5 separate regions of the Homo sapiens genome follow, and all the other regions are linked to region 1. The links come from fine-mapping of genetic effects on plasma protein levels. A gene starts in region 1. Each other region holds a variant in brackets. All regions are shown on one strand. Distances are between the middles of the regions.

Region 1 (5,103 bases):
TCTGACTCAGGAGCTCTGTACCCTTGAGACACAGAGGCAGGGGTTGGTGGCTTCACCCTAGGAGTCAGGAAAAGAATGAAATCATACACATTCAGTTCCTTATTCTCTTACCCTCAACAGAAATTTCAGACAGCCTAGACCACAGAGACAGTTCTTGGAATTCAGGCAAACAACTAATTTGTATTACAGCGGGTGCAACTTAAGAGCTCAGAGTCCATAGTCCGAGCAGTCTTTCTGGAAGGAGGTCTCCAAAGTCAGGAGGAGGGCTCCCCTGAGCTGGATCATCTTAGCTCACTGGCCCCTCCCTTCACAGCGTTCTGTCTTTTATGGAGACAGTGAGGTATAGCGCATAGGAACAAGGATCAGAAGACGCTGGGTTTTAGTGCTGGCTTTGCTGCTCATCAACTGTGTATCTTCTCTCCACTTCATTTTCCATATCTGCAAAATGGGAACAACAATACCAGTCTATATCATAAGGCAGTTATGAGTTTAAAGAGAAATGGTTTACATTAATGTGCCTTGAAGCACAAGACAGAAATACAATATAAAAAATATGGCTGGGGCCGGGCACGGTGGCTCACGCCTGTAATCCCAGCACTTTGGGAGGCCGAGGTGGGCGGATCACAAGGTCAGGAGATCGAGACCATCCTGGCTAACACGGTGAAACCCCATCTCTACTAAAAATACAAAAAATTAGCCGGGTGTGGTGGCAGGCGCCTGTAGTCCCAGCTAGTCGGTAGGCTGAGGCAGGAGAATGGCGTGAACCCGGGAGGCGGAGCTTGCAGTGAGCCGAGATTGTGCCACTGCACTCCAGCCTGGGTGACAGACCGAGACTCCGTCTCAAAAAAAAAAAAAAAAAAATATGGCTGGGCGTGGTGGCTCATGCCTGTAATCCCAGCACTTTGGAAGGATGAGGTGGGAGGACCCCTTGAACCCAGAAGCCCAGCAAAACCTTGTCTTTAAAAAAAAAAAAGAACTGTGCACAAAGATTTCAGAGAGTGCTAAAGATTAGCGCATGGATAAGGAAGTTCTGTGAAGAGTTGAAGTGCTAGGTGAAGAGGTGGCACGGGGGAGGAGGGGGCGGAAGGGGAGAAAGGGTGTCACGCTTCATAACGGTCTCCAAACCTCTTTGTCCAGGAGGAAATGAAGTCATCTGCTCTCAGCAATCAGCATGACAGCCTCCAGCCAAGTAATCTGGAGTCATGAGAGCTGCTAGGGGAGCAACATGAATCATGACGGTCCCTGGGAATTTCCTGATAACTAACCTGGGAGTTTCGGGGTAAGTCCTCAGGCTGCAGCATCTCTGTTTATGTTCTGGTCACGTTTATTTACAATTAATGGGTTCTCAAATCCAAACAAAACTGACCACAGTCTTCTAGAGGAAGTAGCAAGGTTGGCTCTGAAGCCTATAGCATCGCTGACTCAGTCTGTCCCCTGGAAGGCTGGCAGCTCAGCAAGCACAGAAGTCTCTCCAGAAGACAGTGGGTCACCTGCCTCCCAAAAGCTGAAAGGCTAACTTGTACTTTCCCCAGCAGGCAGCTGGCACCCTGAGCCCTCGGCTGGGGCAGAGCAAAGGAGCCTTCCTCCTTCCTACCTTCCTGGCACTCTCCCTGCCTTCCTTCTGTCACTCTCAGGTGGACCCAGACCCAAGGTCCAGATTTGCAAGGCAGGAAAATGCTGCAGGCCTAGGCTGGGAAAGGGCCCAAAGCCGCTAGTGGATTGCTGGGACTCAGCCTCCTCCTTCCCACTAAGAGAGCGAGTCCTACTGGGTTCAAAATGACCCCAAGCCCTGGTTCCTGACACTAGGGGAAAGAGATGGGGGTGACAGAATCACAGAATCCCTGCTATGTTCCTCCAAGTGTGCCCAGAGATGCGTGTGTGTGTGTGTGTGTATACACAAATGTCTGCTTATCCTCAGGCAGGAAGGGTGGATGCAGTCATTTACACATGGTCTGTTTTTCTGGAGGACAATTTTATTTGATAAACAATTGTTTCTATCTGAATAGAATAAACAAGGCTCTATGATGAAGTAAAACACTAAATACACATGCATTAAAAAATGCATAATTATCTTTTTGGAATGGGCTATACAGAGATGTGCTTTTTAAAATGTTAAGAGTGTAAAAGGACAAACAGTGAAAAATAAATCTTCCTCTTATTTTGTCCTCCAGTCTCCCAATTCCTCTACTCAGAGGTGAGAACAGAACTTCCACACCCTCCAGAACCTCCACAGTTAGAACTGTCTACATGTTTCCATTGTCTTTACTTTTATTCTTGCCTGCACAAATAAATGAATTGCTCATTATGGAAACTTCCCAAAAGACCCGTTAACACTTCAATAGGAAGCACCAACAGTTTATGCCCTAGGACTTTGTTCCCACAATCCTGTAACATCATATCACGACACCTAACCCAATCCTTATCAAGCCCTGTCAAAAACGGACTTTAAACCAAGCTGCAAATTTTCAGTAATCTGGCCTTGCCTTTCCCCCTCTGATAGCACCATCAAACAAACCCCCTTACTGCCGAAAGCAATAAGCCCGGCTTTGTTCCATCCACTGGTTGTGTTGGTGATATCTGGGGACTGCCACTGAACAGACGCACAGAGGGAGCCCCTACAGGCAGGGGTTTTTCTGTCTGTGCTTCTGGGAGAGTATGTCTCGTACATTTGTCGCGTTGATGAAGACTTCACAGCTCCATCAGCTGCGGGCAAGGGGGTCTGAGGCAGTCTTAGGCAAGTTGGGGCCCAGCGGGGAGAAGTTGCAGAAGAACTGATTAGAGGACCCCAGGAGGCTTCAGAGCTGGGCGAGGTAGAGAGTCTCCTGTGCGCCTTCTCTCCTCTCTGCAATTCGGGGACTCCTTGCACTGGGGCAGGCCCCCGGCCAGGTGCATGGGAGGAAGCACGGAGAATTTACAAGCCTCTCGATTCCTCAGTCCAGACGCTGTTGGGTCCCCTCCGCTGGAGATCGCGCTTCCCCCAAATCTTTGTGAGCGTTGCGGAAGCACGCGGGGTCCGGGTCGCTGAGCGCTGCAAGACAGGGGAGGGAGCCGGGCGGGAGAGGGAGGGGCGGCGCCGGGGCGGGCCCTGATATAGAGCAGGCGCCGCGGGTCGCAGCACAGTGCGGAGACCGCAGCCCCGGAGCCCGGGCCAGGGTCCACCTGTCCCCGCAGCGCCGGCTCGCGCCCTCCTGCCGCAGCCACCGGTGAGTGCCGCGGTCCTGAGATCCCCGGGCCGGATGCGCGGCGGCCCCAGCTCCCGAGCGTCTGCCTCCCCCGCCCTGGGCTGCCCGGGCTCCCTGGGCTCCCCGGCGGCTGCACGGAGTCAAGGCGCCCCGTCCCGGGCGTCCCCCGCGGGTGCCGATCCAGGCTGCCCGGAGTCCGGAGCCCAGAGAGGAGAGAGACAGCTGGGGAGCCTGGTCACCGCGGGCATCTCCCCTGCGCTGCAGTCGCCCGCCTGGCCTGCCTTCCCGTTCCTCCGCCTCTTGCCCTGACTTCTCCTTCCTTTGCAGAGCCGCCGTCTAGCGCCCCGACCTCGCCACCATGAGAGCCCTGCTGGCGCGCCTGCTTCTCTGCGTCCTGGTCGTGAGCGACTCCAAAGTGAGTGCGCTCTTGCTTTGACTGATGCTGCCCAAGGACCTCTGATCAGCACCAGGGGAGAGGAGGGGCTGCTCAGGGAGCTGGGGTCCTCCGGATTCCATCCACAGCAGGGCCAGACTCTCCCCAGGAAATGGGACAGGGTGGCAGCGGAGGCTTGAGAACCACGGGGGTTGGCACTGGCTGGCAAGGGAGGAAGAGGCCGCCGGGACTGCCCCAGCCTGCGGGCATCTGGTAGATGAAGCTTGCTTGGGTCAATCCATTTCTCCTGGCTGGAAACCCATGGTCTTCCATTTGAGAACTAGATACGAACAGGGTGAGGCGAGAGGGAGAGGGAAGAGTGGGTTTTGGGATTGGGGCCAGTTTACCCTCACCCTGGAGTCCCTGGAGCATGGGACCTTTGATGAAGCCTCCTCCCGAATCTCTTCCAGGGCAGCAATGAACTTCATCAAGTTCCATGTGAGTATCCACCCCTACAACAGTTGGCTGCACAGACAAGTTGGGAAGGCTTCAGGGGACATCCCCTCCCTGCCCTCTGCTGCAGGGCTGCGCCACCCCTTACCACTTCCACTCCCCCTCGCTTACCCCACCTTTGTTCTCTCCAGCGAACTGTGACTGTCTAAATGGAGGAACATGTGTGTCCAACAAGTACTTCTCCAACATTCACTGGTGCAACTGCCCAAAGAAATTCGGAGGGCAGCACTGTGAAATAGGTATGGGGATCTCCACTGCAACTGGGAGAGAAATTTGGGGACAGGGAGGGATGGGTGGGAGGCAAGAGCAGGCAGGAGTTAGGAGCTGGAGGTAGGGTGGGTGACATCTTCATCCCTATGTGACAAGCATAAACACACACACACGCTCACGAAACAGTGGCCACACAAATGTGAGGTGGGGTTGGAAGGAGACCCTGTCCAGTCTTCTGGCAGGTCTGAAACGACATCTTTAAAATGTCCGTTGGCAGCCGGGCATGGTGGCTCACGCTTGTAATCCCAGCATTTTGAGAGGTCAAGGTGAGTGGATCATTTGAGGTCAGGAGTTCAAGACCAGCCTGGACAACATGGTGTAACCCTGCCTCTACTAAAAATGCAAAAATCAGCCTGGCATGGTAGTGGATGCCTGTAGTCCCAGCTACTTGGGAGGCTGAGGCAGGAGAATTGCTTGAACCTGGGAGGCAGAGATCTCAGTGAGCTGAGATCACACCACTGCACTCCAACTGGGCGACAGAGCAAGACTCCATCTCAAAAAAAAAAAATAAAAGTTAGTTGGAATGTTCTTCTCTTTCTCATATTCTCTCATCCTCCTGTCCCCTTGTAGATAAGTCAAAAACCTGCTATGAGGGGAATGGTCACTTTTACCGAGGAAAGGCCAGCACTGACACCATGGGCCGGCCCTGCCTGCCCTGGAACTCTGCCACTGTCCTTCAGCAAACGTACCATGCCCACAGATCTGATGCTCTTCAGCTGGGCCTGGGGAAACATAATTACTGCAGGTGAGGTGGGGGCAACAAGG
Region 2 (5,103 bases), 11 kb after region 1:
CCAGGTCTCGTGGTTTTAGAAAAGCTCCCTCGGTGTTACTAACATGCACCACTGATTGACAGCCTTTGGGGACAATTGGTCAGAATATATGAAGTGCCCAGAAAAATTCAAGATATGGTCAGCATGAGTTCTCTGCATGAACAGCCAGTTTTCTGAGTGGGGTTTGGTGGCACAAGGTCTCCTGGATTTCCTGGTTAAAGGCTTTCTGGACCGTGCTTCCCTAGAGGGCAAGAACTCCAAGTATTTGGCTTTTTCTTTTTTTTGAGGCAGGGTCTCACTCTGTCACCCAGGCTGGAGTGCAGTGGCGCAATCTTAGCTCACTGCAGCTTCTGCCTCCCAGGTTCAAGCGATTCTCCTGCCTCAGCCTCCCAAGTAGCTGGGATTACAAGCATGCACTACCACTACCCGGCTCATTTTTGTGTTTTTGGTAGAGATGGGGTTTCACCCTGTTGGCCAGGCTGGTCTCGAACTCCCGACCTCAGGTGATCTGCCTCCCTTGGTCTCCCAAAGTACTGGGATTAGTATTCGGCTTTTGATCCCCATCATCTAGTGTGCTGTTTTACACAGGTTGATGCAGTGGTTTAGAGCATGGATTTTCGAGTCCGGTGGCCTGAACTAGAATCTAACACCAGCTGTGTGACTTGAGAAAGGTTATTAGCCTCTCTGCACCTCAGTTTCCTCATCTGTACAAAAGAGATGATACAATCTACCTCCCTGGGTTGTTATAAGGATTCATGAAGGCCAGACACAGTGGCTCAGCCTGTAATCCCAGTGCTTCGGGAGGCCAAGGTGGGCGGATCACCTGAGGCCAGGAATTCGAGACCAGCCTGACCAACAAGGTGAAACCCTGTCTCCACTAAAAAAAAAAAAATACAAAAATTAGCCAGGCGTGGTGGCATATGCCTGTAATCCCAGCTACTCGGGAGTCTGAGGCACGAGAATTGCTTGAAACTGGGAGGTGGAATTTGCAGTGAGCCGAGATCACACCACTGCACTCTATCCTGGGCAACAGAGAGCAAGACTTCGTCTCAACAACAACAACAACAACAGAAAGGATTCATGAGTTCATAAGTCCTTTAGCATAATACTGGCACCTAATAAAAGCATAAAAACGGTGGTTATTATTACAAAGCTAAGTAAATTATTGTAGCATCAGATCAGATGGGAACCCTCTGCCCTCTCCCACCTCAGAACTGCACTATTTTGCGGGAGTGGAAACCTGCTAGGAAGCTGCCCAAGCCGAGTGGCTGTTCAGTTTCTGCCTTCCCCTCAGGGGCCAAGAAAGATCTTGTTCAAACTTGAGCAGCTCCAGCATCAGGGCTCAGAGACACTGAAAACAGGAAGTATGAGCCCTACTGGCAGGGTTAAGCCAGGAGGCTGTTAACAATTTTCAGGCCATTTCCCAGCCAACACCCTGACCCCCAGCCAGCTGCTGTCTCTTTGCCTAATATTAGATCTCACCCCAGGCTAGCAGGCATCAGCCGCTTCTCCAGCAACCAGTTTCACAGTTCCAGATTCTCACTCCAGAGACTGCCTCCTATTAGTGCCTCCACGATCAAGCACTGTGCTTTTTCTGTTTTTGCTTTTGTTTTTTTTTTTTTTGAGATGGAGTATCGCTCTGTCGCCCAGGCTGGAGTGCAGTGGTGTGATCTCGGCTCACTGCAACCTCCGCCTCCCAGGTTCAAGCGATTCTCCTGCCTCAGCCTCCCGAGTAGCTGGGATTACAGGCGCCCACCACCACGCCCGGCTACTTTTTGTATTGTTTTTAGTAGAGATGGGGTTTCACCATGTTGGCCAGGATGGTCTTGATTTCCTGACTTCGTGATCCGCCTGCCTCGGCCTCCCAGAATGTTGGGATTACAGGCGTGAGCCACCGTGCCCGGCCTTTTTTTTTTTTGTTTGAGATGGAGTCTTGCTCTGTCCCCCAGTTTGGAGTGTAGTGGCTCAATCTCAGCTCACTGTGCAACCTTTGCCTCCCGGGTTCAAGCAGTTCTCCTGCCTCAGCCTCCCGAGTAGCTGAGATTACAGGCGCCCGCCACTACGCCTGGCTAATTTTTTGTACTTTCAATAGAGATGGGGTTTCACCATGTTGGCCGGGTTGGTCTCAAACTCCTAACCTCAAGTGATCAACCCGCCTCAGCCTCCCAAAGTGCTGGGATTACAAGCATGAGCCACCATGCCAGACCAACACTGTGCTAAATTATTCATGTGTTGTCTGAGTTAATCCTCCCAAGAATCCTATGAGGAAGGTAGTATCACTAGCCCCATTTAACAGTAGAGAAAATGGAGGCACAGACAGATTGAGTGACTTGCACGAGGCAATGCAGCTCCAAATGCAAAGAGTCAGGGTTCGAACCCAGGCAGCCATCTCCAGAGTCCTCATGCGCGGTACTAGGATTTATCACCTCTCAGGAGAGTCCAACTAGGGCAAAAGGAGAGCAGCCCCCCTTTCAAGCTTTCTACTTTATGGTTGCTGGGTTTCTAGGCAACAGCTATCAGAATTTTTTTTTTTTTTTTGAGACGGAGTCTCACTCTGTTGCCAGGCTGGAGTGCAGTGGCGTAATCCTGGCTCACTGCAACCTCCGCCTCCCGGGTTCAAGTGATCCTCCTGCCTCAGCCTCCTGAGTAGCTGAGATTACAGGCACATGCCACCACGCCCGGCTAATTTTTGTATTTTTAGTAGAGACGGGGTTTCACCATGTTGGCCAGGATGGTCTCGGTCTCTTGACCTTGTGATCCACCCGCTTTGGGCTCCCAAAGTGCTGGGATTACAGTTGTAAGCCACCCGCCCAGCCCAGAATTTTTTTTTTTTTTTCCATACACAGTCTTGCTCTGTCGCCCAGGTTGGAGTGCAGTGGCCCATCTCGGCTCACTGCAACCTCTGCTTCCCAGGTTCAAGCTATTATCCTGCCTCAGCCTCCTGAGTAGCTGGGATTACAGGCGTGCACCACCACACCC[G/A]GCTAATTTTTGTATTTTTAGTAGAGACGGGGGTTTCACCATGTTGGCCAGGCTGGTCTCAAACTCCTGACCTCGTGGTTCACCCACCTCGGCCTCCCAAAGTGCTGGGATTACAGGCGTGAGCCACTGCGCCCAGCCTCATCTATCAGAATTTTAATCCTCTCCTAGATAACAATTCTTTCCTCCTAGAAGATTCCCAGGCCAGATGAGGAGACCACACTCAGCCATTGGTTTCAAAGTAAAACTTCACTGTTCTCACAGTAACCTCAGCCTTTCTGCTGCAATCTGGTTTCATTGAAGTGGTTTCCGTTTTCACCAGAACCCCTCTTTCTGAAGTATTCTCAGCCCATTATATTAACAGCACTCAGCCTGCTTTCCACGTATGCCCTATCTTTCCCAAGCTGACCACAGCAGCACCCCTGCCTATACCCCTCCATACTCACTCCCATTGGGTCCACCTTCCTTCCAAGAAGGAAACATTTAAGCCCTCCCTTTGAATTAGATGAAGTAAGAGGAGTTGCTGAGGTGTTTTTTAAAAATCAATTCTGGGCTAGGTGCAATGGCTCACACCTGTAATCCTAATACTGTGGGAGGCCTAGACGGGAGGATTGCTTGAGCCCAGGAGCTCGAGGCTGCAGTGAGCTATGATTGCACTACTGCACTCCAGCCTGGGTGACAGAGCAAGACCCTGTCTCTAAAGAAAAAAAATCAGTTTTATTGAGATATAATTCATATATCATACAACTTACCCATTTATTCTTTCTCTTTTCTAGAGACAGGGTCTTGCTCTGTCACCCAGGCTGATCTCAAACTCCTAGGCCAGAGTGATCCTCCCACCTCAGCCTCCTGAGTGGCTGGAATTACAGGCTCATACCACCACGTCTGGCACCATTTGAAGTGTACAATGCAATGGTTTTTAGTAGATTCACAGAATTGTGAGACATCACAATCAATTTTAGAACACTTCATCACCTCACAAAGAAATCCTGTACCCACTCACAATCACTCCGTTTTTCTCCCCAACCCCCTCAGCCCTAGGCAATCACTAATTTACTACTTTCTGTCCTCTCTGTGGGTTTGCCAATTCTGGGCATTTCATATCAATAGAATCCTATAATATGTGGTTCTTTGTGACTGGCCTCTTTCACTCTTAACATGATGTTTTCAAGTTTTATCCATGGCATAGCATGTGTCAGTGAGGTTGCTGAGTTTTAATAACAAATTGAGGGAAAAGATGGTCTAGGCGAGGTGCAGTGGCTCACATCTGTAAATTCCAGCACTTTGGGATACCAAAGTGGGAGGATCCCTTGAGTTCAGGAGTTCCAGAACAGCCTGGGCAACATAAAGAGGCCCCATCTCAAAAAAAAAAAAAAAAAAAAAAGGATGTTCTAGGTCTCTTTTTGAGGTTTCAGTCACATTGAGATTCATTCAACAATCTTTGTCATTTCTTTCTTTCTTTCTTTTTTTTTTTGAGATGGAATCTCGCTCTGTCGCCCAGGCTGGAGTGCAGTGGCGCAATCTCGGCTTACTGCAATCTCTGCCTCCCAGGTTCAAGCAATTCTCTGCCTCAGCCTCCCGAGTAGCTGGGATTACAGGTGCCTGCCACCATGCCCCACTAATTTTTTTCTATTTTTAGTAGAGACGAGGTTTCACCGTCTTGGCCAGGCCGATCTTAAATTCCTGACCTCATGATCCACCTGCTTCGGCCTCCCAAAGTGCTGGGATTACAGGCATGAGCCACTGCGCCCGGCCCTTTGTCATTTTTTTAAAGTACCCATACACAGGACATTATTTTAGATACAAATGAGGCAGTCCTAGTCCTCAAGGAGCTCACCACTTTGCAAAGTGCTATACTAAGTCTGCATAAAATGCATGGAAAAATAATGAAGAAGCAATTGATTCTGCCTGGTGAAGTCAATGACGACTTTACAGAAGAGGTGATATTTTACCTGGACATTCAAATACACACAGAAATTTGCCAAACTAGAAGAAAGGCATTGTAGGCGTAGGGAAGTTCATGGAGGCATGAAAAGGTGAGGTGTTCTAAGGAAATGAGGAATAGTCCATTGTGGTGGAGAACTCTGGGGGGCAATGAGTAGGTGGAGATGGTGGGGAAGGATCTGGTGGGATCCAGCTGGTGATGAC
Region 3 (5,103 bases), 27 kb after region 1:
TGTAGGATGCTCAAAATATCAACGTCACAACTGAGAAATCCTAGAGAATAAGTTGTAGAGGGCAGGCACAGAGAGGTAGTCAAGGGGTGAGCGTGAGAATTTTGGAAGGGAGTTTTTTCTTTTTTCTTTCTTTTTTTTTTTGAGATGGGGTCTTGCCTGCTTGTTGCCCAGGCTGGAGTGCAGTGCTGCAATCATAGCTCACTGCAGCCTTGAACTCCTGGGCTGGAGCAATCATCCCATGTCAGCCTCTTGAGTAGCTGACAGGTGTGTGCCACCATGCCTGGCTAATTTTTATATTTTTAATAGAGACAACAGGGTCTCACTATGTTGCCCAGGCTGGTCTCAAACTCCTAGGCTCAAGTGATCTACCCACCTTGGCCTCCCAAAAAGAGTGCTGGGATTACAGGTGTGAGCTGCCATGCCCGGGCAGGAAGAGACATTTTTTAAAGGCCTTGTAAATACTGTACTTATAGCAGCAAGAGACAGGAGTCAGCTCCAGTAAAGCCTGGGATGGACACAGCACATCCTTTCCTGACGTTCCTGCTGCTTCCAAGCACCAGCCTTAAGAGCCCAGAGGAAACTGCTAATGAATTTCCCTAGAGTTACCCAGAACTAATTCTGAGGGGTTTCCTGCCACCTCTCAGGTCCGGGACTGTTAAGGGGTACCAGCCAAGATGTCCAACTCCTCACCAGCATATTCTGCCAGACCAGGGCACCCTGCTCTGATCATGCTGAGACATGGGACCCAAGTCCAACACGTTTGGTCAATGCATGATTTCAAAGAATTGTAACATCAGCAGCAGAGAAACTGGAGACCCAAAGAATGGATTCAAATGCTTGTTGCCTGAATCTGCTCTTCTCACAAGTCCCTCAATATTGTACCTGAATATAATACCTTCTCCTGCATCAAGAGAGGACATTAGGTGGGTCCCAGCTGCCTCTTCAGGGATTTAACAGGCTAACCAGGAGCTCTCACTTGTCTTTCTACCTGCAAACTACAGAATGGGTGCAGATCTTTCCAGGAAGCTTATAAAAGCTCACAGGGTGAGGCGAAAGTTGGCTTAGTCTCAGAGATTCATTGTTGTTGGGAACGTAGAGCCCTGAGCGCTTTAAGTCCTGAAAATCTTCTAGTTTCTGATCTTTAGCTCAACTTTTAACTGTTTTCCTCCTGATTTTTGTTTGGCTTTCTGATTTGATTCTCTGGTTTGACATATGTGTCTGTCTTAATTAGGTTTTCCAGCAGGTCATGGCCCTGTCCCGGGCCCATGTAAACCATCAAAGGCTTGCCTCAGTCATCCCTATACCAGCTTCTCACCTTGCCCAGTCTTAGGGCCTGGGATCTAAGAGCCCTCTGGAAGATCTACCCTTTTTCTACATCTGAAAACTCACTATTAGAGAGTTAAAGTCTTCGAAACATTCCATGTTTCCCAAGGGTCCACATGGCAATTTTGTGATATATTTATAGGTAGCAAGTGGAACAAAGGGGTTTGTAGCCAAATAAATTTGGAGAATGTTATGTGAGGTTAGTTTCTTGTCTACAACAAGGCTTAATATGCTTTGAACAGGTTAAACATCCATACAATGAACTTAGTCAGCTCACAATCCAGTACCCAAAACCCTTGGAACCAGATATATTTGGATTTCAGAATATTTCAGGTTTTAATAAGGTAAATGGTGAATATGCTATTTATTCCACTATTTATTCCATTGCACCCAGAAGAGCTGGCAGGCCCTGTAATCAAGCACATACTTCTGCAGCAAAACATATGCATCTTCATACTAAGTAGGCTAAGTAAAAAATCTGAAAAGCCACAACATCATTTTAGGTCAGGTTTTACCCCTAAGTCTTGTTTTGTTTTTTGAGACGGAGTCTTGCTCTGTTGCCCAGGCTGGAGTGCAGTGGTGTGATCTCGGCTCACTGCAACCTTCACCTCCTGGGTTCAAGCGATTCTCCTGTTTCAGCCCCCCTAGTGACTGGGATTATAGACACACACCACCACACTGGGCTAATTTTTGTATTTTTAGTAGACATGGCATTTCACTATGTTGGCCAGGCTGGTCTCAAACTTCTGACCTCAAGTGATCCATCCACATCGGCCTCCCAAAGTACTGGGATTACAGGCATGAGCCATAGCACCCAGCCTGTTATTTTTTAAAACTTAGTTTTTAGCACTTTTTGGACTTCAACCTGATGGATACAGGATGGGGCCGTGTAGATGGTGTTCCCAACATAGATGATCTCAGAACTCCCTCTTCCAGGAGCATCTAGCAGGACAGGTATTTCATGGACTCCAAGGATACCCTCAGCTGTTAGTCTATAACACAGGAGAGTGAACACAGTCGGTCATTCTCACTTTAGCCTTATCCTCTCCCACACCAACTAGATGAGGTGAGGATTCTGACAGCCAAACAAGGAGGAGAAGCTGGAGAGCCTGTGCATGTGTGCAGATGTGGTTGGGGAGTCATGGTTCAGCTGTCAGCTTCTGGTGGAAAAGGGATACCAAAAAGAGCGGCATAGTGGACATCCAGGTTATGGTGGTTTTCTTCTGTGTACACTTCTGTGTTTTTCACATTTCCTTTAGAAATGACGAGCTTTTTCTCCCTTATTGCTGTTTTCTACTGCAGGGAGTTGCTGCTCTTAGTGTTGCAGTGTGGGGAGGTAGGATGGGGCTGACGCAGAGCCTGAGGGCAAGGCAGGGTTCCTGGGAAGATGGATTCCTGTGATTCTGGCCTTGTGCCTCAGCCAGAGCTGAGGTGGGGTGGGGTGTATGCCTAAGGCCAGGGTCCCCTGGGGAAGGAGGAGGATGTTGGATTTCTGGTGGATTTCCAGGAAGACTTCCTGCTCTGACAAAAACAACACAAACACA[G/A]GAAGAGGCTCTGGGGCCTAAGGAGAGGGGATAATGGACCAAGGTGGAGACTTTTGGGGTGGAGGCTGATACAGAGAGCAGCCCAGGAACAGAGAAGCTGCCTCCTCGCTGTCCAACTGTGTTCCCCAAGCCAGCTGAGAGTCTTTCTCTACTGTGGTGGCAAGTTGGGAACTGGAGGAAGAGGCCCAGTAACTTTGGACTCCCTGGCTTCTTCTCCACTTTTCATTGAGTATAATATTTCTTGGTGGCCTGGACCATGAGGATGGGGGTGGAGAGTAGGCAGTGGACTGCGGGGGGGCATTTGGCTAAGGCCTCAGATTATGTAGGGCCTCAGATACAGACCTTAAATGTGTGGGGTCACACACCTGTCAGAGCTACATTCAGCCTCACTGTGCGGGATCAGGTGAAGACATGCATCCTAAACTTGCTACCATTACCAGCCCTATGGTGTGCTGTAAACTCATTATCTTCATATGGCTTGTGAATTGCTCTGTTATGTTGCATTATATATGTATATATACACATATGTGTGTATGGGACTCTGTGTGTGTGTTTGTTGTAAACCAAAAATAAAAATCTAAGGCTACCCCCACCATCTGAAGAGACTCCCTCCTCTTGGCCAGGCCACTCCAAAGTTAACCTGAACAACTGTTTTCAGGCCATGAGGGGAAGTGGGGGTTGGACCTGCCTCATAATGCCCTCCTGCCTTTTGGAATTCAGGAAAAGCTGACCAGCATTAACAACAACATAGACCTTAAGTCTGATAAATAACCTTTACAATCTATTCTCTCCTGAAGCCTGCTATCTGGAGGCTTCATTTGCATGATAAAACTTTGGTCTCCATAACCTCTTATCATAACCTAGATATTTCATTCTAGTGATAACTCTTTTAACCATTGCCAATGAGAATTTTGTTTGTTTGTTTGAGATGGAGTCTTGAGTGCAGGCTGGAATGCAGTGGTGCAATCTTGGCTCACTGCAACCTCCGCCTCCCAGCTTCAAATGATTCTCCTGCCTCAGCCTCCTGAGTAGCTAGGATTACAGGTGCCTGCCACTACGCCCGGCTAATTTTTGTATTTTTTAGTAGAGACAGGGTTTTGCCATGTTGGCCAGGCTGGTCTCAAACTCCTGACCTCAGATGATCTGCCCACCTCAGCCTACCGAAGTGCTGGGATTACAGGCATGAGCCACTGCACCCGGCCTAGAAAATTTTTTAATCTACCTATAATCTTGAAGGCTCTGTACCCCATTCCCCATTTTGAGTTGTCCCCCCTTTCTGGATCTAACCAATGTACATCTTAAATGTGTTGACTGATGTCTCATGCCTCCCTAAAATGTATAAAACCAAGCTGTGCCCCTACCACCTTGGGCACATGTTCTCAGGGTCTCCTGAGGGCTGTATCACAAGCTATGGTCACCCATATTTGGCTCAGAATAAATCTCTTCAAATATTTTACACAGTTTGACTCTTTTCGTCAACTCTCTCTCTCTCTCTGCGTGTGTGTGTGTGTGTGTGTGTGTGTGTGTGTGCCACCACACCCGGCCAACATTTTTAAAAATAATAATAAATAAAAAAAATAATAAAATAATAAAACGGGGCCAGGCGCGGTGGCTCACGCCTGTAATCCCAGCAATTTGGGAGGCGGACGCAGGAAGATCGCTTAAGCCCAGGAGTTCGAGACCAGCCTAGGCAACAAAGTGAGACTTTCTCTCTACAAAAAATACAAAATACAGCTTTGGGCATTTTTTCTTTTTTTGAGATAGGGCCTGGCTTTGTCACCCAGGCTGGAGTGCAGTGGGTCATCACCACTCACTGCAGCCTGGACCTACTGGGCTGAAGTGATCCTCCCACCTCAGCCTCCCAAGTAGCTGAGACTACAGGCATGCGCCACCATGCCCAGCTAATTTTTGTATTTTTTGTGGAGATGGTGTCTCATTTTGTTGCCCAGGTTGGTCTCGAACCCCCGAACTCAAGTGATCCTCCTGCCTCAGCCTCCCCAAGTGCTGAGATTATAGGCGTGAGCCACCATGCCTGGCTTTCTTTTACTCATTTATTTATTTATTTGGGTGTGGGGGTCACAGCTTTGACTTGCTAAGTATACACATTTGAGATATACCACACTTTCAGTAACTTTGTTTTGGCATTAAAAATCTGTATCTATCTATATCTAGAGCTTTGAAAGGGAAGTAATAAACATTTTTTTTTTTTTTGAGACAGAGTCTTGCTCTGTCGCCC
Region 4 (5,103 bases), 570 kb before region 1:
TGTGTCAGCACTTCCCTGAGCACATGCGCACCTGGCCAGGTTGTGACAGCACCAGGCTTGGCCACAGCTTTGCTCCAAAATTGGAGCAGGCACCAGGAGTAGGCAGAGGCCAGGCAGCAGGAGCAGGCACTTCCAAGCCTGTGGGGGCAGGAGGGCTTCCCAGCTTCCAAGAGTGCAGAGATGCCTGGGTATGCAGCTGTGGTTGGGCAGCTGCAGCTGCACATGGGAGGGCACTTGTTCCCAGCTCCCACCAGCTCCATGGAGCGTGTAGGCCCAGTCAGGACTCCCCCACTGCAGCCAGCATCATGGCAGGAGCTGCTCCAGACTGGCCACTGCTGCCATCACTACTAGGGTAATGAGATGGGGAGGAATTAGAAGGAAGAGACATGACTAGAGGGACACTTTCACTGCATACATCTTCATTTTTAATTTTGACAGTAACTGATAATTACCTATTCATAAATCAGTAAATTTAAAATAAAATAAAGAGTACATGTGATATAAATTATTTTGTTTTCTGGACTTAAGAAGCCAGAAGATATTTGAATCAGAATTAGATATGTGTTTTATTTTGGCATGTAAGTATTTCGACAGGTGACAAATGTATATAAATTACAGTAATTCACAAAATGTTTTATCATCTGTCAGTACACTAAGTTTATCACAAAAACCTGTATATCAGGCTCTCACCTCAGGATGGTTGAGTTCTCCTTCTTCTTCTTCATAGGGACCACCAACAATGAATGCATCAGGAATGTTATTAGCTCCTGGAGCCAGAATGTTGGCAATTGGCCACTTTTTGGGCCGGGGAACAGGTTCCCTTTCCCCTCCAAGCTTCAGAGTTCCATTCTTAAATAAAATGGGATAGTCCTTCTACAGAAATAGATACCATATGTCAGGAAAATTTGTAAAGGACTTTGAAATGGACAAGAAGATTATTCAAGTGTCTTTTCAATGGAATGCTGAGTGTTATCAAACATACCCCTCTACGATTAATCTGATTCTAGAGAGGGGCCTGTGCCCTTCATTCCCTTTGTGCTATTTTACAACTCTGTAACTTATAGACATTTGATAATAATGCAAATTATTCTTGTTCATAAATATGCAGATACAGTTTGTCCAGTGGCAATGTAACTGATTATTTCCCTGAAGCTAATGACAAATTTTGAATTATTGGCAAATTCATTTCAGCATTCCTGATGCCTATATACTCCTTTGAACTCATTGTCACATTTTACTGATTCCCTCATTAATTAGTTAAATAAAATCTTGGACCAAATTCTGTGTTATTTATATTTATATGAGAGTTGTGCTTATACCTGTTTAAAAATTATCCTTTAGAAAACGAACTAAAATCTGGCAAGGGGCTAAAAATATAGGCATTTTCATGTCTTATAACTTATCCAAAGTATACTTGCAGTAGAAAATTGGTAAAATATATAAGTAGGCAATTTATAGAAGGGGAAATTAGAACATCCAACATTTAAACAAAAACATGCTATGTTTCATTAATAATCAGTAAAGTGCACATTAAAACAATGAGATATCAGCCAGGCAAGGTGGCTTAATGCCTATAATCCCACTTTGGGAGATAGAGCCAGGAGGATCACTTGAAGCCAGGAGCTTGAAACCAGCCTGGGCAACATAGTGAGACCCCCATCTCTACAAAAAAAAAAAATTAAAAATTAGCTAGATGCAATGGCATGCACCTGTAATCCCAGCTACGTGGGAGGCTGAGGTGAGAGGATTGCTTGAGTCCAGAAGTTCAAGGTTACTGTAATCTATGATTGTGCCACTGCACTCCAGCCTAGGTGATGGAGTGAGACCCTGTCTCTTATTAATAGATAGATAGATAGAGAGATATATAGATAGATAAAGAACAGGAACAAGAAGTTTACTGGAAAAGATAAATAAATGGCCCTTAAATTAAAAGGAAGTTCTATTTCCAACACTATAGCAAACTAAAGTACAACAGAGCCTTCATCAGCAACAAACACAACAAACTAGATAAAGTAGAATAGCAACAACAAAAAAAGAGTTATATTTTATCACATAGCCAAGGTCAAAAGAAGTAAATGAAAGTCTAGTCCAGTCACGGTGGCTCACACCTGTAATCCCAGCACTGTGGGAGGCCGAGGCGGGCGGATCACAAGGTCAGGAGTTCGAGACCATCCTGGCCAATATGGTGAAACCCCATCTCTACTAAAAATACAAAAATTAAGCCGGGC[G/A]CAGTGGCTCACGCCTGTAATCCCAGCACTTTGGGAGGCCGAGGTGGGCGGATCACAAGGTCAGGAGATCGAGACCATCCTGGCTAATACGGTGAAACCCCATCTCTACTAAAAATACAAAAAATTAGCCGGGCCTGGTGGCGGGTGCCTGTAGTCCCAGCTACTCGGGAGGCTGAGGCAGGAGAATCACTTGAACCCAGAAGGCAGAGGGTGCAGTGTGCCGAGATCGCACCACTGCACTCCAGCCTGGGTGACAGAGCGAGATTCCGTCTCAAAAAAAAAAAAAAAAAGAGAAAGAAAAAGAAAGTCTAAAAGTGCCAGAACTGGCAGCAGCAGCAACTCAGTACCCAAGGGATAAGCTCATGAGCTGATGCTGCGCCAACCCAGGAAATGTCAGACCCAGACACTATTATAGAGAAGCAATCATGGCCCCATGCTCAGGCAGGACGGGAAGCTGGAACTAAGACTACTGCATAAAACTAGGACCTGGGGCTGGGTGTGGTGGCTCACACCTGTAATCCCAGCACTTTGGGAGGCTGAGACATGCGGATCACCTGAGGTCAGGAGTTCAAGACCAGCCTGGCCAACATGGTGAAACCCCCTCTCTACTAAAATACAAAAAATTAGCTGGGCGTGGTAGTGGGCACCTGTAGTTCCAGCTACTCAGGAGGCTGAGTCAGGAGAATTGCTTGAACCCGGGAGGCACAGGGTGGAGTGAGCTGAGATCATGCCACTGCACTCTAGCCTGGGCGACAGAGTGAGACTCCATCTCCATCTCCAAAAGCAAAGCAAAAAAGAATTCTAGGACCTGGTAGGGCAACCTTTCATAAAACATCAGAATAAAGGAGCCCTTTTCAAGTTTAAAATGATGTAAGAAACCTAAAAGAAAAAGATTTAACTATTAAAAAACTTTTGTGTACCAAAGCAATGACCCAAATTAAAAATAAATAATAAACCAGAAATAAATATGATAAACTATAAATTGACAAACTTGAAAGAAAATATTATTTTTCTCTACATATGAAGAATTTTTTTTTTTTTTGAGATGGCGTTTCACTCGTTGCCCAGGCTGGAGTACAATCTTGGCGCAATCTTGGCTCACTGCAACCTCTGCCTCCCAGGTTTAAGTGGTTCTCCTGCCTCAGCCTCCCCAGTAGCTGGGATTACAGGCACCCACCACCATACCCAGCTAATTTTTTGTATTTTTAGTAGAGACAGGGTTTCACCATGTTGGCCAGGCTGGTCTCGAACTCCTAACCTCAGTTGATCTACCTGCCTCAGCCTCCCAAAGTGCTGGGATTACAGGCGTGAGCCACTGCACCCCAGCCAGAATTTAATACATCAGCAAGAAAAATACTAAGCCCTCCAGGAGAAAAAAAATAAAAGACACTTTTAATTATCAAAATTAGCAAAAACAAAGAGAAAATTTTCAATACAATCTCAAAGTTGGAGAGAGGGCAATGCACAGATCTGCCTCATATAACTATGTGGGCTGTTCCCCGGAAGGGTGATCAGCCATCTCATTTGCCTAGGACTGTCCCAGTTGTGGTGCTGAAAGTCCCATGTCCCAGGAACCTCCTAAGTCCTCAGCAAACTGAACAGTTGCTACACAACTTTAGTGGGTCATCCACATACATGGCCCTGGAAATAAGATAAGTGGAAGTGTTAACTGAATAGAAGAAGCCTTTTAGCAAGCAAGTTAGAAATCTCCATCAAGAGCCTAAGAAACTCCATATCCAATCATTCCTATACCTAGAAATTTGGCCTAAGAAAATAATCTGGAATTAAGAGAAAGTTTTGTTTAATAAAGCACGTTGCACAAAATCTGCAAAATGTACACATAAAAATAATCTGTATAGAAATACACCAAAATTGGCCATTTTAAATCTTACATATTTTCCACCATATATTTATATAAATTATATTTAATGCATAATATATAATATGTAAATTATAAACATTAAGATCTGTATATAAAATAGAAATAAACTGTATTTTTCAAGCCTAAAATAAATCTCAGCTATTAGCAGTGCAATGCTTTGAATGAAATCTTAGAGGTGAGGAAGAGATGGCCATATGAGTACAGACATGTTTGAATCTCTATAAATATCTGGCAGTAGGGCTTTACCTCTCCAAGTGATGGAACTTGCAGACCGACCATGTAGTTCTGCCCAGGACCTGTTGGAATGAAGGATTCAGGCACAGAGTAAGCAGCCTCCAACGTGACCTTCAGTAGATTGCCCCCTGAGATCTGGGCTGTGGTCAGTAAAGGCTCTGCCACTAATACTTTAACTTCAAGACTGCACTGCTGTAAAAGAATAAAATTATGCAGCATTTTGAAAATTGCCAGAGATCTTCCTTTTTTGCATTATCTCATTTGAATCTCATATTACTGTTCAAGATAAGAAGGTAAAGCTTAATTATTTCCATAAGTTGAAACCATGTTCTCTAAGTCCCATGAGTTGGAGATAGAGCCAAGAAGAGAATCTTAACCCTAAACTAGATCCCTTCCCACTCTATCATACTGAGGTAAAGTATATATATAAATACATATAAAACAGGAATTGTAAGATTCTGTTGAAATGTTGGCCAGGCATGATGGCTCACTCCTGTAATCCCAGCACTTTGGGAGCCAAGGCAGGTGGATCACCTGATATCAGGGGTTCAAGACCAGCCTGGCCAACACAGTGAAAACCCATCTCTACTAAAAATACCAAAATTAGCCAGGCATGGTGGTGCGCGCCTGTAGTCCCAGCTGCTGGGGAGGCTGAGGCAGGAGAATCGCTTGAACCCAGGGAGGCAGTGAGCTGAGATTGTGCCATTGCACTCTAGCCTGGTCAACAAGAGCAAAACTCCATCTCAAAAAAAACAAAAG
Region 5 (5,103 bases), 1.3 Mb before region 1:
AACAACCATGGAAACAAAGCCAACAAAACCATCCCTGGGGTAAATTGTGAAGTAAGCAGAATCAACTCTGTTTTCTCCATTTCTTCTCAGACCCAACTAACCTAAGTACAATAGATGATTGTGTTCATGGCTCTGTGCTAGCGCTTTACATACAACCCAGTGCTTGTCTACAACCACTCTAGGATGGATACTGTTTTATTCATTTGCAGATAGGGAAGCAGGCTGACACCCCTAGGTAATGCAGTACATGCAGTAGCGGGACATAGACCTGACCTGAAGGCCTCTGAGGCTTCCACTCTTAAATGATGTAATTCAGGCCGGGCGCGGTGGCTCACGCCTGTAATCCCAGCACTTTGGGAGGCTGAGGCGGGCGGGTCAGGAGATCGAGACCATCCTGGCTAACACGGTGAAACCCTGTCTCTACTAAAAATACAAAAAATTAGCCAGGCGTGGTGGCGGGCGCCTGTAGTCCCAGCTACTCGGGAGGCTGAGACAGGAGAATGGCAGGAACCCGGGAGGCAGAGCTTGCAGTAAGCCAAGATCGTGCCACTGCACTCCAGCCTGGGCGACAAAGCGAGACTCCGTCTCAAAAAAAGAAAGAAAGATTTGCTGAAATTCAATTCTAATTTTAGGCAACATTTGTCTATATAAAACTAATCAGTCAAACTAACTGTTAAATAACATTTAAAAACATAAATCATTGTTTCTCAAACGTTTTGGTCTTAGGACCCCTATACACTTAAAAATTATTGAGGACTCAAAATAACTTTTATTTATGTGTGTTATACCTATCGATATTTACCATATTCGGCCAGGCAGAGGCTAATACCTATAATCTCAGCATTTTGAGAGACTGAGATGGGATGATCACGTGAGGCTAGGACTTTGAGGCTACAGTGAGCTATGATCATGCCACTGCACTCCAGCCTGCGCAACAGCGCAAGAACCTGTCTCTATAAACTTTTTTTAATTTAGCATATGAGGACTTAAAATTGAGGCCGGGTACAATGGCACCCAGCACTTTGGGAGGCAGAGGCGGCAGATCACCTGAGGTCATGAGTTCGAGACCATCTTGGCCAACATGGTGAAACCCTATCTCTACTAAAAATACAAAAATTAGCCAGGCATGGTGGCACACGCCTGTAATCCCAGCTACTCAGGAGGCTGAGGTAGGAGAATCGCCTGAATCCGGTAGACAGAGGTTGCAGTGAGCCAGGATCATGCCACTGCACTCCAGCCTAGGCCTCAGTGACAGAGCAAGACTCAGTCTCAAAAAAAAAAAAGAGAAAAGAAAGAAAATTAAAATTGAAATTATTTTAATGTGTACTTAGTCATTTAAAAATAATAGATCCATTATATGTTGACATAAATAATGTATTCTTAAGAAAAACAACTTCAAAAAAAAAGAGTAGCATGGTTTTACATTATTGCAAATTTCTTTTCTTTTTTTTTGAGACAGAGTCTCACTGTGTCGCCCAGGCTGGAGTGCAGTGGCACGATCTCGGCTCACTGCAACCTCTGCTTCCCGGTTTCAAGTGATTCTCCTGCCTCAGCCTCCTGAGTAGCTGGGATTACAGGCGCATGCCACCACGCCCGGCTAATTTTTTTGTATTTTTAGTAGAGACGGGGTTTCACCATGTTGATCAGGCCGGTCTCAAACCCCTGACCTCGTGATCCGCCCACATCGTCCTCCCAAAGTACTGGGATTACAGGCATGAGCCACTGTGCCCGGCTGCAAATTTCTTTAATGTCTGGCTTAATAGAAGACAGATTCTTGTATCTTTTCTGCATTAAATGTTTGCACTCTTACACTTCATGTAGCCTCTGGCAAACTCTACTATATACTCAAGAAAGAATTAGAGCGATAAGGCAAATAACAGTGTATTAGTAAGAAAACAGTCTTGACCTTACAGATTACTAGAAAGGGTTTCAGGAAACCTCCAGTGGTCTTTGACCACACTTTGAGAACCACTGTTTTAAACCATACAAATGTTAAATGCTATTGTATATTTTGTCTAGTCATTTTGGCATCAAGTAGAACATTTAATGGAAAGGAGAACAAGACAGAGACAATTTACAGACTAGGCCAATCTTATACAAATAAATATGAGATGTGAGTATTCTTTCTTCATTTCTTTTTTTTTTTCTTTTTTTGAGACGGAGTCTTGCTGTGTCACCCAGGCTAGAGTGCAGTGGCACAATCTTGGCTCACTGCAACCTCCACCTCCCAGGTTCAAGTGATTCTCCTGCCTCAGCCTCCTGAGTAGCTGGGATTACAGGCATGCGCCACCATGCCTGGCTAATTTTTGTGTTTTTAGTAGAGATGGGGTTTCACCATTTTGGCCAGGCTGGTCTCGAACTCCTGACCTCGTGATCCACCCGCCTCAGCCTCCCA[T/C]AATGCTTGGATTACAGGCGTGAGCCACCGCATCTAGCTCCTTCTTCATTTCCAAGAGTATAGAGTAAGTTAGCAGAATTCAAGGTCATAACCAAACACAGCTATATTCTACATTAGAAATCTGTCCATCAATTCAGTATTGTTTTTCAGGATGCTATGCAATGTGTTCCGAGTCATATAAATGTATGATATCACTAATCAAGGTTTATATCTCCTGTACAAACTAATAATAAGACTCCTCTGGTGACCAATAAAATTTGAAGTCAAAATTCTTTCACAGACATATATTGAATACCTACATATTAATATATGTAATGCTCACAACTAGTGCTGGGCTTGTAAAAATTTATAAGCTCGATTCCTGCCCTTGGGCAACTTGTATCTATAATGAGACTTGCACCACCGTAAAAATGTATTTTTTAACAAGTTCAGTAGTTCCCAAACCAGTCTGGTGATCAAATGCCTGGGAATTATCTGAGGAGATTTTTAAAATACAGATTCTTGGATCATGAGACACACTGCTTCAGTGAACCAGGGTGATGCTCTGGAATCTGGATTTTAAAAGTCCCAGGTGATTCCCCTGCAATGATAGGATTGGGAATGAATACTAAGTCCTGTATACTTGACAAATAGATTTGATCTTTGCCCCCAGGACTATCATACTATCATATGCAAAATATAATGTTTATTTATTTCATCTTCAGTATTTCAAAAGTGTGTTGTGTTGAAAGATCTGTGTTATCAAGGGACAGTATTTAATGTCATTCACTAAAAATAGAAATTGGTGTCCTTATGTCATACATTTTATAGTTCATCTATTCTTATCACATTAAAATAATATGTGTTACCACAGCAGTCTCCAACATATCACACCACTGTAAAAAACAAAAACATCTTTTGCAACAAGTATCAGACTACAAAAAGTTTATTTTCTAAAGCTTTCATTCAGTTTCTTTAAAATGAATTCAATGAGATGGTCTTTGTTTTATTACACTTATCTTCAGGGTTCCATAGATTATGGTATCTCAAAACCTATGCAGTCGTCCATCACAAACTCCTTTTGAATATATATATCAGAGACAGAGACAGAGAAACAAAGAGACAGAGAGTCTTAGAGTCTTACTCTGTCGCCCAGGCTGGAATGCAGTGCACCATCTCAGCTCACTGCAGCCTCAACCTCCCAGGCTCAAGTGATCCTCCCGCCTCAGCCTCCTGAGTAGCTGAGACTACAGGTGCAAACCACCAGCCCTGGCTAATTTTTTGTAATTTTTGTAGAGACAACATATCACTATGTTGCCCGGGCTGGTCTCGAACTCCTTGGCTCAAGAGATCCACCCACCTTGGCCTCCCAAAGTGCTGAGATTACAGGTGTGAGCCACCACACCCAACCTTTTTGAAGTTATATTGTACTTGAGTAGCTATCTAGAGACTTATGACCCATAGTTGTTCTTGCAGTGAGTATTCTTCTCTAATACTTATAGCCAGAATTAATTATGTTCAAATAAATATGAAAAAAATTTTAAAAAAGCTTAAATGTTTCCTGGCTTTTTACCACTAGGAGGTGGGAGGATGGCATAAATATGATGATTTATAAAAATTGACATATTCTCCTTGATTTTATGATTGAAACTAACTTCAAAATTAAAGAATCTCTGCCCAGATCTTGATTTCTGAACTACCTTTCTCCACAAAAAGGAACTAAGTCTTCTTGAAAACAGGGCTGGTTTCAAGTCTACAGCAGGAATGTACAAGATGACCTGGAACATCTTGTTGTGTCCAAAAGTAAGGAAGCAATCAGAAAATAAAATGAGGACATGTCAAAGGGAGCCAGCTTGAAGGCCCATCACTGGCCAAATCTGGGATAATTGGAGTACCAGCATAAGAACAGTAATAAGTGGCTGGGCGGGATGGCTCACGCCTGTAATCCCAGCACTTTGGGAGGCCGAGGCGGGCATATCACAAGGTTAAGAGATTGAGACCATCCTGGCCAACATGGTGAAACCGTGTCTGTACTAAAAAAATACAAAAGTTAGCTGAGTGTGGTGGTGCGTGCCTGTAGTCCCAGCTACTCGGGAGGCTGAGGCAGGAGAATCGTTTGAACCCAGGAGGCAGAGGTTGCAGTGAGCCAAGATCACACCACTACACTCCAGGCTGGCAACAGAGCCAGACTGTCTCAAAAGAAAAAAAAAAAAAGAACAGTAGTAAGTTACAGCCACTGAATAAAATAAGAATCCAACAATCTATATTAAGGAGAGAAAGAGAAATGGGGAAATCAGACAGTGGCTTTCCTTAAAGTAGACTACTTGCTGATAAATCCAAAGAGAGTGGTGGAGTTGGGAAAACCACCATTTTGCAACTATCATGGTAAAGATTGGTTTGGGCAAACATTATCAGTTAAATCCGGCAGGGGTTGGGCAGGGAATTTTATGAGAAGCAGGGTATTTTTATGTTTCAAAGCATCTCCCCACAGATTTTATATTTTTTACAAAAGGAAATGGTAACTATATAACAGAAACTATGCAACACTTTGATCCCTATGATATAGTACTCTGAGAAGAACACAATATCACTTGAATCTGATCATGAGGAAATATCAACCAAACCCATATTGAGGAGCATTCTGTGAAATAACCATCATGAAAGGAAAAAAATGGCAGAGGAACTAACTATTCCATATTAAAAGAGACTAAGGAGACTTGACCAAAAAA

Direction of the effects. Alleles are on the strand shown, and positions count from the first base shown. The strength of an association depends on the size of the effect and on how common the allele is.
With allele A in place of G in region 2, the plasma level of the protein whose gene starts at base 3,117 in region 1 is higher (weak association).
For the plasma level of the protein whose gene starts at base 3,117 in region 1, G is the high allele of the variant in region 3 and A is the other (weak association).
In carriers of allele A in region 4, the plasma level of the protein whose gene starts at base 3,117 in region 1 tends to be lower than with G alone (moderate association).
For the plasma level of the protein whose gene starts at base 3,117 in region 1, T is the high allele of the variant in region 5 and C is the other (weak association).

What was found. PIP is the posterior inclusion probability: the model's chance that the variant is causal. The UK Biobank Pharma Proteomics Project read protein levels with antibody pairs (Olink). The fine-mapping took linkage between variants from a reference panel, not from the people measured, so its PIPs are less certain.
Region 2: its variant is fine-mapped to the plasma level of the PLAU protein (UK Biobank, PIP above 0.99).
Region 3: its variant is fine-mapped to the plasma level of the PLAU protein (UK Biobank, PIP 0.94).
Region 4: its variant is fine-mapped to the plasma level of the PLAU protein (UK Biobank, PIP above 0.99).
Region 5: its variant is fine-mapped to the plasma level of the PLAU protein (UK Biobank, PIP above 0.99).

What each region holds. Positions count from the first base shown.
Region 1 is chr10:73,908,016-73,913,118 of GRCh38, forward strand. PLAU (plasminogen activator, urokinase) reads left to right here and starts at 3,117. Exons shown (of 11, transcript NM_002658.6): 1 at 3,117-3,203; 2 at 3,510-3,597; 3 at 4,026-4,053; 4 at 4,200-4,307; 5 at 4,909-5,083. The coding sequence starts at 3,541. C10orf55 (chromosome 10 putative open reading frame 55) reads right to left here. Exons shown (of 5, transcript NR_160938.1): 3 at 5,028-5,060; 4 at 4,185-4,269; 5 at 1,954-4,080. RefSeq lists enhancers at 593-1,792, 1,148-2,098, 1,348-1,397, 5,016-5,103 and a silencer at 3,064-3,663.
Region 2 is chr10:73,918,926-73,924,028 of GRCh38, forward strand. It overlaps C10orf55 (chromosome 10 putative open reading frame 55), which reads right to left and starts at 3,852. Exons shown (of 5, transcript NR_160938.1): 1 at 3,708-3,852. RefSeq lists enhancers at 1,247-1,895, 1,896-2,542. The variant G/A (reference allele first, on the strand shown) is at 2,959.
Region 3 is chr10:73,935,067-73,940,169 of GRCh38, forward strand. No RefSeq gene overlaps it. Among named protein-coding and RNA genes, the nearest start is that of C10orf55, 15 kb to the left of the region's middle. The variant G/A (reference allele first, on the strand shown) is at 2,868.
Region 4 is chr10:73,340,709-73,345,811 of GRCh38, forward strand. CFAP70 (cilia and flagella associated protein 70) reads right to left here. Exons shown (of 28, transcript NM_001367801.1): 6 at 4,357-4,536; 7 at 691-873. Among named protein-coding and RNA genes, the nearest start is that of CFAP70, 16 kb to the right of the region's middle. The variant G/A (reference allele first, on the strand shown) is at 2,229.
Region 5 is chr10:72,627,475-72,632,577 of GRCh38, forward strand. No RefSeq gene overlaps it. Among named protein-coding and RNA genes, the nearest start is that of MICU1, 3.9 kb to the left of the region's middle. The variant T/C (reference allele first, on the strand shown) is at 2,396.